Linked DNA regions of Homo sapiens. The protein of the gene in region 2 interacts with the protein of the main gene of each other region in a pairwise test. Each region holds a gene or a part of one and is shown on either strand. Other genes may lie near its edges.

What was found.
Region 1: the proteins of SAMD3 (region 2) and ATXN1 interact in binary tests that used the Homo sapiens proteins (3 or more experiments, as listed by UniProt).

The regions. Positions count from the first base shown.
Region 1 is NC_000006.12:16,324,433-16,331,464, reverse strand, and holds part of ATXN1 (ataxin-1), read left to right. Parts: intron 1-2,994; 5' UTR 2,995-3,033; coding exon of another isoform or gene 3,034-3,123; 5' UTR 3,124-3,154; coding exon 3,155-5,071; intron 5,072-7,032. Other genes in the region: uncharacterized LOC127903862, read left to right, coding at 3,034-3,123. UniProt on the Homo sapiens protein: Chromatin-binding factor that repress Notch signaling in the absence of Notch intracellular domain by acting as a CBF1 corepressor. Binds to the HEY promoter and might assist, along with NCOR2, RBPJ-mediated repression. Binds RNA in vitro.
Region 2 is NC_000006.12:130,177,935-130,184,966, reverse strand, and holds part of SAMD3 (sterile alpha motif domain-containing protein 3), read left to right. Parts: intron 1-343; coding exon 344-529; intron 530-779; coding exon 780-864; intron 865-2,625; coding exon of another isoform or gene 2,626-2,661; exon of another isoform or gene 2,662-2,895; intron 2,896-7,032.

The DNA of each region.
Region 1 (7,032 bases), about 110 Mb from region 2:
GAGTTTTCCTTGCTCGTTGGTATGGAAATGTGGGAGCGTTTGGCATTCCCTTTCTTAAGAGTGAGTCTTGAAATTTAAAGATAAAAGTTCATTATTAGAACTTCTTTTTACAAGGGAAGGCTGTACAGAACACAGTTATTTGTCACTTACAAAAACCCTAGGTGGGCAGGGCGCAGTGGCTCACGCCTGTAATCCCAGCACTTTGGGAGGTAGAGGCTGGTGGATCATTTGAGGTCAGGAGTTCGAGACCAGCCTGGCCAACATGGTGAAACTCCGCCTCTACTAAAAATACAAAAATTAGCCAGGCATGGCGGCAGCCGCCTATAATCCCAGCTACTCAGGAGGCTGAGGCAGGAGAATCGCTTGAACCCGGGAGGCGGAGGTTGCAGTGAGCCGAGATTGGCACATTGCCCTCCAGCCTGGGCGACAGAGTGAGACTCCATCTCAAAAAAAAAACACCTGGGTTGCGAGAGTAAATAAGTGACATTACTCCTTCAACACTTCATTTCTTCAGCATAAGTGTTTTAGGGTTTTTTTAACCTTATTTTTCATTTCCGTCCCAGTCTTTAAGCGCCTCTCTTGTCATATGAGAAATTCTATTCTTACTGAAATGTCCTTTGATATCGAGACACCAAATTTCTAAACCTGCACCTTCCTAGATATCTGATCAAAATCATTAAGGATTGAGAACTTTCTGTTGTATCATTTGTCATTTCATTATGATGTTCATTGATGATGTTGGAGCAAAACCAATAAGGGCCATTAAATCATTGCCCCTTCCAAGCTGGCTGCAGTGGCTCATGCCTGTAATCCCAGCACCGGGAGGCCAAGTGGGTGGATCACTGAGGCCTGTTCAAGACCAGCCTGGCCAACATGGCAAAACCCCACCTCTACAAAAAGTACAAAAATTAGCCGGGTGTGGTGGCGTGCACCTGTAGTCCCAGCTACCTGGGAGGCTGAGGTGGGAGGATCACTTGAGCCCAGGAGGCACAGGTTGCAGCAAGCCGAGATCACGCCACTGCACTTCAGTCTGAGCAACGAAGCAAGACCTTTTCAAAAAAAAAAAAAAAAAAAGGAAGGAAGGAAGGAAAAAAATCATTGCCCCCTCTAAAAAATAGTTACAAAGTAGGGGGCAGAGTAGAGAAAGGGGGTTATGTTTCAGTAGGGATTTCAGTGTTGCTCCAACATGGACAAGGATTGAATGCTGAAGGCCGCTACTTTATTGTGTTTGTTTTAAAATCGGATCATTGGCTACACACAGTGGCTCATGCCTGGAATCCTAGCACTTTGGGAGGCCAAGGAAGGAGGATTTCTTGAGGCCAGGATTTCAAGACCAGCCTGGTTAACATAGCAAGACCCCATCTCTCCAAAGAAAGAAAGAAAGAAAGAAAGAAAATCAGATCATTGAAAAGAGGGTCTGGATGTGAGATACCAAAACCCAAGGGTGTGGAATTCCCAAAGCCCAATCCCACAGCTCTCAGAATCACAGCATGTTGCACTGTGCATACCTACAGCTGCTACCTGTGGAAGCAATCACATCCGCTGCTTGCTAGCCTGGGTCATGTCAGTTCCACTGATATTTGGCCTCTTGTCTGTTGGGCATTGGTTTGCCCACACAGCAGCAGTAACTCAGACTTCAGTGGTTAGTAAGAGACTGAGATACTTGACCATAAGAACTGGCTCCAGGGTCACCATTTGTATGTCCAGGTTTGAACACACTGATCTGATTTGTCTGAAAGAGCTGTCGTCTCTAGTGTTAATGGCGAGTTGTTACTTTCCAATGAGAAAGGGGACGGTGTGAAGGGGAACTTCAATGACAACTTGAAAAGGAAGAGAGAGATGGACAAACCAAGCATGTAACCCACTGAGAAAACATTCAGTGCACTAGCCCTATTTTTGTATGGTATTTGGGTTTTTTAACCATAATCAAATTCGGTTTTTAACAGTCTCACTCCGTCATCATATGAGTGGCTGTACTGGGAATTCTTTTGAAACTTGCAGAGAACAGGATTATTTCTGGCGGCCTCTGCTGAGTTGGCGTGTGTGTGTGTGTTTGTGTGTGTGTGTATTAGGGAGAGGAAATCGTAGGTCCAGTGTGGACCCAGAGCTAAGGGGAATCTTGGAGAGTAGTGGCTCTGGCAGATGAGGATTCAGAAATCGAGTGCAAGGACTGTTCTGGACTTTCACTGCTAACCTGCTTTTTCTCAGTGCCTGGCTCTGAGGGCAGGGTCCAGCTGGTGTCATGCTCTCCAAGGGCTTCATTTTATGTTCCAGCCAGGCAAAGGAGAGGTGAGAAATGGAACCAACATTTCTGAAAAGGAAATTTAAGAACTGCATCATCTGCCCTTGAAGAAGAAAAGGAGAAAAAAAAACAGGAGAGAGGGTATTGAGAACATCTTAGGGGAGTTGTTAACTCCATTAAAAAATATATGTGTTACAGTGTTCACTTGCCCAGTGTCTTCATAATCTTCCTTTATAATGTGCAGCTGCCACGGCTAGTGTTTTTGTTTTTGTTGTTGTTGTTTTGTTTCGTTTTTGGAGACAGAGTGTCGCTCTGTTGCCCAGGCTGGAGTACAATGGTGCAATCTCGGCTCACTGCAACCTCTGCCTCCTGGGTTCAAGCAATTCTCCTGCCTCAGCCTCTCAAGTAGCTGGGACTACAGCCGTGTGCCAGCTAATGTTACACCAGGCTAAATTTGTTTTTTATTTTTTATTTTTGGTAGAGACGGGGTTTCACCATGTTAGCCAGGATGGTCTTAATCTCCTGACCTCGTGATCTGCCTGCCTCGGCCTCCCAAAGTGTTGGCTAGTGTTTTCTCTGCTTCAGTGCTTGGGGTATGATTGGGTTATGGGAGTTCACACCGAGTCCAGGGCCTAGTCTTAATCTTGCCAAAGATGTTCTTTCCCCGGTGCTCATGTTCTGATGTCCTTTCCCTCCTTCCCTTTCTCCTCCCTTTCCTTTTCCCTTTGTCACTGCCCTCTTCCCTTTCCCAGCATCCAGAGCTGCTGTTGGCGGATTGTACCCACGGGGAGATGATTCCTCATGAAGAGCCTGGATCCCCTACAGAAATCAAATGTGACTTTCCGTTTATCAGACTAAAATCAGAGCCATCCAGACAGTGAAACAGTCACCGTGGAGGGGGGACGGCGAAAAATGAAATCCAACCAAGAGCGGAGCAACGAATGCCTGCCTCCCAAGAAGCGCGAGATCCCCGCCACCAGCCGGTCCTCCGAGGAGAAGGCCCCTACCCTGCCCAGCGACAACCACCGGGTGGAGGGCACAGCATGGCTCCCGGGCAACCCTGGTGGCCGGGGCCACGGGGGCGGGAGGCATGGGCCGGCAGGGACCTCGGTGGAGCTTGGTTTACAACAGGGAATAGGTTTACACAAAGCATTGTCCACAGGGCTGGACTACTCCCCGCCCAGCGCTCCCAGGTCTGTCCCCGTGGCCACCACGCTGCCTGCCGCGTACGCCACCCCGCAGCCAGGGACCCCGGTGTCCCCCGTGCAGTACGCTCACCTGCCGCACACCTTCCAGTTCATTGGGTCCTCCCAATACAGTGGAACCTATGCCAGCTTCATCCCATCACAGCTGATCCCCCCAACCGCCAACCCCGTCACCAGTGCAGTGGCCTCGGCCGCAGGGGCCACCACTCCATCCCAGCGCTCCCAGCTGGAGGCCTATTCCACTCTGCTGGCCAACATGGGCAGTCTGAGCCAGACGCCGGGACACAAGGCTGAGCAGCAGCAGCAGCAGCAGCAGCAGCAGCAGCAGCAGCATCAGCATCAGCAGCAGCAGCAGCAGCAGCAGCAGCAGCAGCAGCAGCAGCACCTCAGCAGGGCTCCGGGGCTCATCACCCCGGGGTCCCCCCCACCAGCCCAGCAGAACCAGTACGTCCACATTTCCAGTTCTCCGCAGAACACCGGCCGCACCGCCTCTCCTCCGGCCATCCCCGTCCACCTCCACCCCCACCAGACGATGATCCCACACACGCTCACCCTGGGGCCCCCCTCCCAGGTCGTCATGCAATACGCCGACTCCGGCAGCCACTTTGTCCCTCGGGAGGCCACCAAGAAAGCTGAGAGCAGCCGGCTGCAGCAGGCCATCCAGGCCAAGGAGGTCCTGAACGGTGAGATGGAGAAGAGCCGGCGGTACGGGGCCCCGTCCTCAGCCGACCTGGGCCTGGGCAAGGCAGGCGGCAAGTCGGTTCCTCACCCGTACGAGTCCAGGCACGTGGTGGTCCACCCGAGCCCCTCAGACTACAGCAGTCGTGATCCTTCGGGGGTCCGGGCCTCTGTGATGGTCCTGCCCAACAGCAACACGCCCGCAGCTGACCTGGAGGTGCAACAGGCCACTCATCGTGAAGCCTCCCCTTCTACCCTCAACGACAAAAGTGGCCTGCATTTAGGGAAGCCTGGCCACCGGTCCTACGCGCTCTCACCCCACACGGTCATTCAGACCACACACAGTGCTTCAGAGCCACTCCCGGTGGGACTGCCAGCCACGGCCTTCTACGCAGGGACTCAACCCCCTGTCATCGGCTACCTGAGCGGCCAGCAGCAAGCAATCACCTACGCCGGCAGCCTGCCCCAGCACCTGGTGATCCCCGGCACACAGCCCCTGCTCATCCCGGTCGGCAGCACTGACATGGAAGCGTCGGGGGCAGCCCCGGCCATAGTCACGTCATCCCCCCAGTTTGCTGCAGTGCCTCACACGTTCGTCACCACCGCCCTTCCCAAGAGCGAGAACTTCAACCCTGAGGCCCTGGTCACCCAGGCCGCCTACCCAGCCATGGTGCAGGCCCAGATCCACCTGCCTGTGGTGCAGTCCGTGGCCTCCCCGGCGGCGGCTCCCCCTACGCTGCCTCCCTACTTCATGAAAGGCTCCATCATCCAGTTGGCCAACGGGGAGCTAAAGAAGGTGGAAGACTTAAAAACAGAAGATTTCATCCAGAGTGCAGAGATAAGCAACGACCTGAAGATCGACTCCAGCACCGTAGAGAGGATTGAAGACAGCCATAGCCCGGGCGTGGCCGTGATACAGTTCGCCGTCGGGGAGCACCGAGCCCAGGTAACGTTAGCCAGGGTGGCACAGGGATGGGACACCACACCGTGATGCCATCATCATCTCCTGGCAAGACGAATTGCTTCTATGAGGCAGGATTAAGGGTTCTCGGGTACACCTAGACCTTAGACTCGGCCTTTCCCAACTGCGTTCTCTAGAAAAAATAAGCCCCATTTCCCCGTGATCTCTGCTGTGTGTAATGAATTAACCTCCATGCATGGAGAGTGGGGCTAGTTATGGAGTCCTTGAGACAATCCAGAAACTCACCACTCTAGTTATTTTTTGAATTCTGTGATTAAGATGAGGAACCCTGATTAGGAAACGCTGCTGGACTTCAGGTCCTTCTAGTGGTCATTCGGCACTTTTTCTTACCAGGAAAAGACAGAGGATGCCGTTGGAGTGAGGGGATTAGATGCTAAAGCAATCATATCCCATTGCAACATCCATGTTTTAAAATATGTCTTATTAGCTGGGTACAGTGGTATATGCCTTCGGTCCCAGCTACTCCAGAGACTGAGGCAGGAGGATCACTTGAGCCCAGGAGTTCGAGGCTGTAGTGAGCTATGGCTGAACCTGTGACTATCACTGCACTCAAGCCTGGGCAACATAGCAAGGCCCGGTCTCCAACATATATATAATGTCTTATTATTTAGGTATGATAAGGCCAACAGATAGATCAGCAGACAACTCTCTTTGACGAGATAATTTTTATACTCTCTGATCCCAAGAGGAAAGGGCACTCTACACCAAGAGGTGTAGAACACCGTAAAGTGGGGGGCACCTGGGGAAGCCCCAGGTGGGTCAGGAGGTGGAGGGAGTGAGGGGAAATGTGGCAAACAACAGCCTTTATTGTGGTTTCATGGGAGGCAGGGTAAACGGGTTTAGGATTGGTTAGAGTGGATAATTCCAGTGTGCTCTGGGGTGTAGGGGCTGTCCTTAGTTGTCTGGCTGCTGGTGCTGGGGTGATCAATACAGGTGGAAGGGCTGGGCACAGTGGCTCACACCTGTAATCCCAGCACTTTGGGAGGCTGAGGCGGGTGGATCACCAGAGGTCAGGAGTTCGAGACCGGCCTGGCCAACATGGTGAAACCCTGTCTCTACTAAAAATACAAAAATTAGCCGGGCATGGTGGTGTGTGCCTGTAATCCCAGCTACTCCAGAGGCTGAGGTAGGAGAATTGCATGAACCCGGGAGGTGGGGATTGCAGTGAGCCGAGATCAGGCCACTGCACTCCAGCCTTGGACACACAGCAAGACTCTGTCTCAGACAAAAAAAAAAAAACAGATGGAAGGCAGCCCTAAGTGTGATGGACCAATATAGGAGGCTGCTGGGGAGTGGGCTCTGGACTGGTTAGTTTGCATATGAAAGTCAGGCTCCTAGGAATTAGCTCTGGACTGGTTGGTTTGCATATAAAAGTCAGGCCTCTAGGAATTAGCTAATCCTAGGAGAGACTATACCTCTGGGATCCACAAGACACTAAAATATCAAAGCATCAGAAAATAAAAGCGTGGTTAATACAATCTGAGAAGTCAGGGCTGTCCCAGGTGACCTGCTGGGCTTGGGGTAAAGTCAGCTGTAGCCAAGATGAGTCACTGGAAGTATGGTTAACGCTCTTAATTTCCACAGGCTCCTTCAATCTACCCTTTTCCAGGTTCTTAGATCGATTACATGCATTTATTCCACAGCCCATTTCTTTCACTGCCCAAGTTGCTGGGAGTCCAGCAGGTTCAGCCTGCAGCTGAGAGCTTTCCTGGCTATCGAGCGTACTTTCTACAAGTGTTTCCATCTAGGATTTGAAAACATTCAAATGGGACAGAGCCTCCTTCCAGCTTGAGTTGAAAATAGTCATGAAATAGCTGCTATTTGGGACATTCAGATAAAATAAAACAAGAAAAAAAAGATAAACTAATTAATGGTTTGAATTGTTTTGGGCATTTTTTTTTTTCATTTTTGAGACAGTGTTTCTT
Region 2 (7,032 bases):
TCTTTTTGTTAAGTATATTGTCTAGTTTTGAGCTATGCATTACATTTTCTCTTTAAGAAAAATGAATTAGTATGCATTTCAACTTCAGGCTTTATTCTAAAGTCTATATTATTATGACTTTTTCTAAAGAATACATATTTATGTGTTGTGTGAATGGACAAAGACACTTAATGAGCCTTCAAACATTTGTGGATGGATGAATGGATGGAAGATGGCTTGATGACTTCCATATATTTGGGTCTCAGGAAAGTTGTTTATTTCATAAGTTCTCAGGATGTAGCAAATTAATAAACTGCATATATTTGGAATAGAATTTCATTCTTTGTGTGTTTTTATTTCACAGAAGAAATGTGAAACAAATTCTAGCAAGAAGCAAAGCATTACAGTGGACGAAGTCCTATGTTTTACCAGAGTTTCCCTATGATGTCAAATGCATGTTAGCAGAGCAGAAGTGCCCGGATCACAGCATGAGGATAAGGATCATTGAGTTTCTCCAGGCCGACATGACTAAGTATCTGGAAGGCTCACTGTGAGTGACAACAGGACAAGCTTGCTGCTTTGGGAAAGGGTCTGTTTCAGAATAGAGTAGAATTCCTGTGGAATCAACTCTCTTCAGATTGTGGATGATATATTGGTAATAGGTCCCAATTGCCCAATATTTAAATCTCTTTTTGTTATATAGAAAAATGTGAAGAAAAATGAGTGTAATTAGACTCATCTTAAAGGAAGGAATGTGGTTTGCTTGAAGTGAAACATATCCTCCTTGTTTTGGTGAACAGGTACCCCAGCACCCAGCAGTACAATGACGTGGTTAATGCCCTGCTGCAGGCCCACCCTTTCCTGGATGAGGATGGCTGTGGCTTCGTAAGTGACCACATGGCACCATCCTGTTAATTTCAGACTATCTTAAAATAATTGCCTTGTGTTGCCCAGTAATTTTATGCTTCACCCATCTTTTCTTGGTGTCTCTCTCTCTCTCTCTCATTCTGTCTATGTATCTAGGTCTATCTGTTTCTGTTTTTCTGACTCTTTGTCTCTTTAATCTCTCTCCAACTTTGTTTCTGTCTTTCACTTTCTGTTAGTCCATGCTTCTTTCTTGACTTTGCGCTCTCTCTCTCTCTGGCTCTCTCTCTTTCTCTCTCTGTCTCCTTGTCTTCCCTTTTTCATAACTTCTTGGTCTCTCTCTGCCCTGTGTTTCTTTGTCTTCTTTGTCTCTCTCTGTCATCATGTTGCTGTCCTGTCAAAACTGGAAGCTCAGTGCAACAGAGCTGATCAGGAGTTGCCTAGGGCTGAGGGTGGCCAAAATGGATAGTGATTATGGTTGCACAAGCATATAAAGTTGCTAAAATTGAGCTGTTCGCTTTAGAGTCTTAAGGGTTTTAAGGGTTAGGAAGGGTCTTTAGGAGATGTGACACATAGAAAGAGAAAGACATGGCTGCACCTGCTTCGGAGCTGTCATCAAGTGTTTCTTGCCTTCTCAGACCCAGTGGAGCTGTTGTCTGGCTTTGAGGTCTGGGCCTCCAGCCTTACCTGGCCCTGTCAGATCTCTGCTTTCTGTCCTGATAAAAACAGACCCTCAGGATGCTCTGGGGCAGCAGTTCTTTTTTTTTTTTTTCCTTTTTTTTTTTTTGAGACGGAGTCTCGCTCTCTCACTCAGGCTGGAGTATAGTGGCGCGATCTCAGCTCACTGCAACCTCCGCCTCCTGGGTTCAAGCAATTCTCTGGGGCAGCAGTTCTAAGCTCTGGTTGCACATTAGGATTCCTAGAGATTCAGATTGAATTAATTTGAGGATGGGATTATTCTAATGTACAACCACGGCTGAGAACCACTGCCGCTGACGTTTCAACACAAAGTTTGCTGTTTGAACCTGCCTGTCTCCTGGATTTCAAAGACCACTGTCTTCATTGCACAACAATGTGAATATAATCAACACTATTGAACTGTACCTAAGAATAGTTAATAAAAAACTGAGTGTTTATGATGCTGTAACTTTATGAGTTAAGGAACAATTACAAGGAACTGTAGCTATGTATACAAAAAGGTAGATGGTCTATTATTCCCTGTATCTCTATATGCCATATGCATACACATTGGTAGGCATATCTAAAGAAGATAGATGTCTTTTTGTGCTTTACTGTCTCAGATGTCTGTGAAAAGATATTTTTTGCTGTGCTTTCTTAAGGACATGGAATTTCAGCAATTATTTCCAAGAACAACAAAGGATAAATGCCAATTATCTATGAATATAAAGACATTTTAAGGCTCTGTTTCCTCCCTCCCTTCCTCCTTTCCTTCCATCCTTCTTTCCTTCCTTCCTTCCTTCCTCCCTCCCCTCCCTCCTTCTTTCTTCCCTCCTTCCTTTCTTCCTTCCTTATTTGTATTTACCCCTCCCTCCCTCTCTCCCTCCCTTCCTTCCTTCTTTCCTTCCTTCCTTTCTTCCTTCTTTTTTTGTATTTTCAAGAAAAGGTTCATTATATATGGAGAGAATCACAGAATTTTCTCAGTGGGAGAGGTAATTAAAGGTTTTTTTCACCACTCAGACTGAGGAAAGATGTTGTATACCATGTCTGGAAAAATGATAGTTATTGAAGCCAAGATTAGAATTCAGGTATTCTTGCTTCTAGGATGACATCCTTTCCAAAATATGCTGCTGCATATAAAGTGCACTACAGAAGAAACTGAATTTCCTCTAAAAAAACAAAACAAAGCGAAGGAAAAAAAACAAGGCAACAACAACAATACTACACAAACCTGGCATCCCAACATTGACAATCATGTCAATATGGCTGACAAAACTGATTCTCGGAATTTCTTCTACACTGGAGATACATCTACCAACTTAATGTCTAATCAGTGTTACTGTGTATAGAACTTGTGGTTTTTTTTTTTTTTTTTTTTTTTGAGACAGAGTCTTGCTCTGTCGCCCAGGCTGGAGTGCAGTGGCACGATCTCGACTCACTGCAAGCTCCGCCTCATGGGTTCACGCCATTCTCCTGCCTCAGCCTCCCGAGTAGCTGGGACTACAGGTGCCCCCCACCACGCCCAGGTAATTTGTTGTATTTTTAGTAGACATGGATTTTCACCATGTTAGCCAGGATAGAACTTGTGTTTTTTTTTTAAATTTACATTTACTGTTTGAATAAATTACATATTTACATAGCTCAAAATTCAAAAACTACAAAAGGGTATAAATAGAAAAGTTTCCCACCCGCCCTTGCTTCTGCAGCCACCTAATTTTCCTCCCCATAAGTAACCAATACTATTAGAGTCCCTCTAGAGAATCTTTGCATATACCTAAGCAAATCCATATTGATTCAATACCTTTTGACCTTTAGTTTGATGGTTATCAAAGTGAGACATGTACAAAGTAACAAATAATGCTTTCTTTGCTCTTGTGTCCATTTTATCCACATCTGTTCCCAGTGACATTCACTAAGGACCGTTAACTGATAAAGAGATGTGTGCAAAATTGCTTAGCAGATTAGGGCTCAGATTTGCACTCATAGAGTAGAAGGAGAAACTCTGGTGCCTGGATGGATGTTTACCCAAATTCTCCCTGCGAGTGTGTGTGAGGTTGTGTTTCTAATGTTACAGTGGAAAATGTACAAAATTTCAGAGAACATTAATGGGAGGCAGGGGTGGAGAAAGAAAAAGGGTGCACAAACTTGGTTATTTTTAGGGCTAAGTTTATTTTTAACTCTTAATTTTGAAAAATTTGGGGCCGGGTACGGTGGCTCATGCCTATAATCCCAGCACTTTGGGAGGCCAAGGCGGGCAGATCACCTGAGGTCAGGAGTTTGAGACCAGCCTGGCCAACATGGTGAAACTCTCTCTCTACTAAAAATACAAAAATTAGCCGGGCATGGTGGTGGGCACCTTTAATCCCAGCTACTCAGGAGGCTGAGGCAGGAGAATCGCTTGAACCGGGAGGCCGAGGTTGCAGTGAGCTGAGATCACGCCATTGCACTCCAGCCCAGGTAACAAGAGCGGAACTCCGTCTCAAAAGAAAAAAGAAAGAAAGAAAAAGAAAAAAGAAAAGAAAAGTTTCAAATCTGAACAAAAGTTGAAAGAATGCTACATTGATATGCATATACTCCTAACAACATGGATTTTCTCAACCTCTTGACTGTTTACCTTTGGGGCTGGATAATTCTTTCTGCTGGGGACTGTCTAGTACATTGAAGTATATTTAGTAGCATCCCTGGCACCCACTAGGTGTGAGTAGCACTCTGTCCACCCAGTTGTAACAACCAGACATGTCCCCAAACATCACTAAAGTAAGCACACTACAGAATAAAGCAAAATTTCTCTTAAAAAACAAAACAAAGCAACAACAACAACAAAACCAAACAAGGGGAGGGAGAGGAGCAACATCACGTCACTGGCTGAGAGTTACTGATCTAGATTAGGGATTTTTTTGCCACATTTATTTTTCTTCTGTCATATTTGTTTGCTTGTTTGTTTGTTTTGGTTGAGCATTTAAAAGCAAGTTGCAGATGTCATCCCTAAACACCATAACATATATAAGAACAGCTGGGAGTGGTGGTTCACGCCTATAATCTCAGCATTTTGGGAGGCCAAGGCGGACGGATCACTTGATCCCAGGAGTTCAAGACCAGCCTGGGCAACATGGTAAAACCCCATCCCTACAAAAAAAAAAAAAAAAAAAAAAAAAAAATTAGCCAGGTATGGTGGCATGAGCCTGTAGTCTCAGCTACTTGGGAGGCTGAGGTGGGAGGACCACTAGAGCCCAGGAGGTTGAGACAGCAGTGAGCTATGATTGCACTACTGCACTCCGGCCTGGATGACAGAGCAAAACCCTGTCTCAAAAATAATAATAATAAAAAAAAAGGTCGTGTACGGTGGTTCACGCCTGTAATCCTAGCACTTTGGGAGGCTGAGGCGGGTGGATCACCTGAGGTCAGGAGTTCAAGACCATCCTGGCCAACATGGTGAAACCCCGTTTCTACTAAAAACACAAAAATTAGCTGGGCATGGTGGCAGGTAACTGTATTCCCAGCTACACGGGAGGCTGAGGCAGGAGAATCGCTTGAACCCAGGAGGCAGAGGTTGCAGTGAGCCAAGATCAGTGTCGTCGTACTCTAGCCTGGGGGACAAGAGCGAGACTTCATCTCCAAAAAAAAAAAAAAAAAAAGAATAAGGACAATCTCTTATATAACCACAATACCATTCTTATACCCAAGAAAATTAGCAATAAGTGCATAATATCATATACAATCCATATTCACATTTCTCCAATTTTTCAAAAATGTTTTAAAGATAGTTTTTTGCTATAATATCTAATTGAGTATTATGCATTGCATTCGTTATTATGTCTCTTTAATTTTTTTTTTTTTTTTGCCTAGACAGTCTCTCCATACCCTTTTTTATTTTTCTGGATATTTGCTTTTTGGACAAGTCTAGTCCAGTTGCCATGTAAGACGGTCCACATTCTGCATTTGAATGTGCAAAGATCTGCTCGTGATGCTGTGGACTGCTTCATATGTCACAACAGGAGGTCTGCAATTTCAGGGCCATTTTTTATTTCAGAGTGGTTGACGGAGAGCTGTCTTCATGTAGAACTTTCTACACCCTCTCTAGCTGGAAACATGGAGGAGAGGGATGATTATTCTATAACATAAATATTTCCTACTGAGTCTGCCTACCTGAGGCGTCTGCGTAAGTAACTCATGGTGTCAGGCATATAGCAGATTCTCAGTAAATATTCATTGATTGAATACTCATGTGGAAGATTGTATTTGATTTGTCCTTTTTCTGTTCCTATCAGACAGTTAATAAGGAGAGATGGGAGAGGCTAGAAAGAAGAAATTGGCAATTTAAAAATGTCCTAGCCGTTGATTGCTATAATACCTCCCACCAGGTTCAGCACATTTAGAAACCCTTCAGAGCTACAGGAAACATATGGAAAAAAAATGTACTATACTTGCTTTAGTTCATATTTCATGGCTAAGAAAAATACAAGCCATTCTTTTTGTCTGTTCTGTGGTAAAACAGCAATGGTAAAGTCCAGGCTCACAAGCAAGCCTATGGGAGGTGATAAGGCACCTCTGACTCATGCATACCTGGGAGCTTAATCAGTGCTGAAGCCATACTCCAACCCTCAACCACTGCCTTTCTTACTAGGGCTGTTGAAGGACTTTACAAACAGCACTTTAGTTTACAAATATCTTCTATGAGTAGCTACTCACTCTCCCAAAAGGCTAGTGCAGTTGATAGGACAGATCTTATTGTTCCGTTTTATAGTTGAAGAAACTAAAATTAAGAGGGGTTACTTGGCTGATATGTATTCACACTAGTACTTGGACCTGCAGTCTTCCCAACTTAGGCTATGGTGCTTTCAGGGATTACTCTCATTGGGACTTACAAACCATATAACCAGGAATGGCAAAATCTAAGTGCCAAGCATTTGGCTAATGTTATTTTGGTGTCATTCCCATTGGCCCATGAGGAAATAGAGCTTAGAAAACATGCCCAAAGCCATTTGGCGACTTACCACTTTCTCTCTTGGCCAGGGCTCGAGGGAAACACAGGCCCATATGCCTGCAGGGGTTTTTTTTTTTTTCCCTTCCCCGCACTCACTGTGGGGATCTATTCAATCACACGGCATTGCAGCGGAGAAGAGCAGCAGAAGCAGCCCTAAGGCACTGTCTTCAAGAAGGGTTGGGCCAGCCGGGCGCGTGGTGGCTCACGCCTGTAATCCCAGCACTTTGGGATGCCGAGGTGCGCAGATTACCTGAGGTTGGGAGTTTGAGTCCAGCCTGACTAACATGGAGAAACCTCGTCTCTACTAAAAATACAAAAAATTAGCTGGCTGTGGTGGCACATGTCTGTAATCCCAGCTACTCAGGAGGCTGAGGCAGGAGAATCGCTTGAGCCCAGGAGGTGGAGATTGCAGTGAGCCAAGATTGCGCCATTGCACTCCAGCCTGAGCAACAAGAGTGAAACTCCGTCTAAAAAAAAAAAGAAGGGTTGAGCCACCACTCATGCAGTGAGTTAGTTACCAGCTAAGC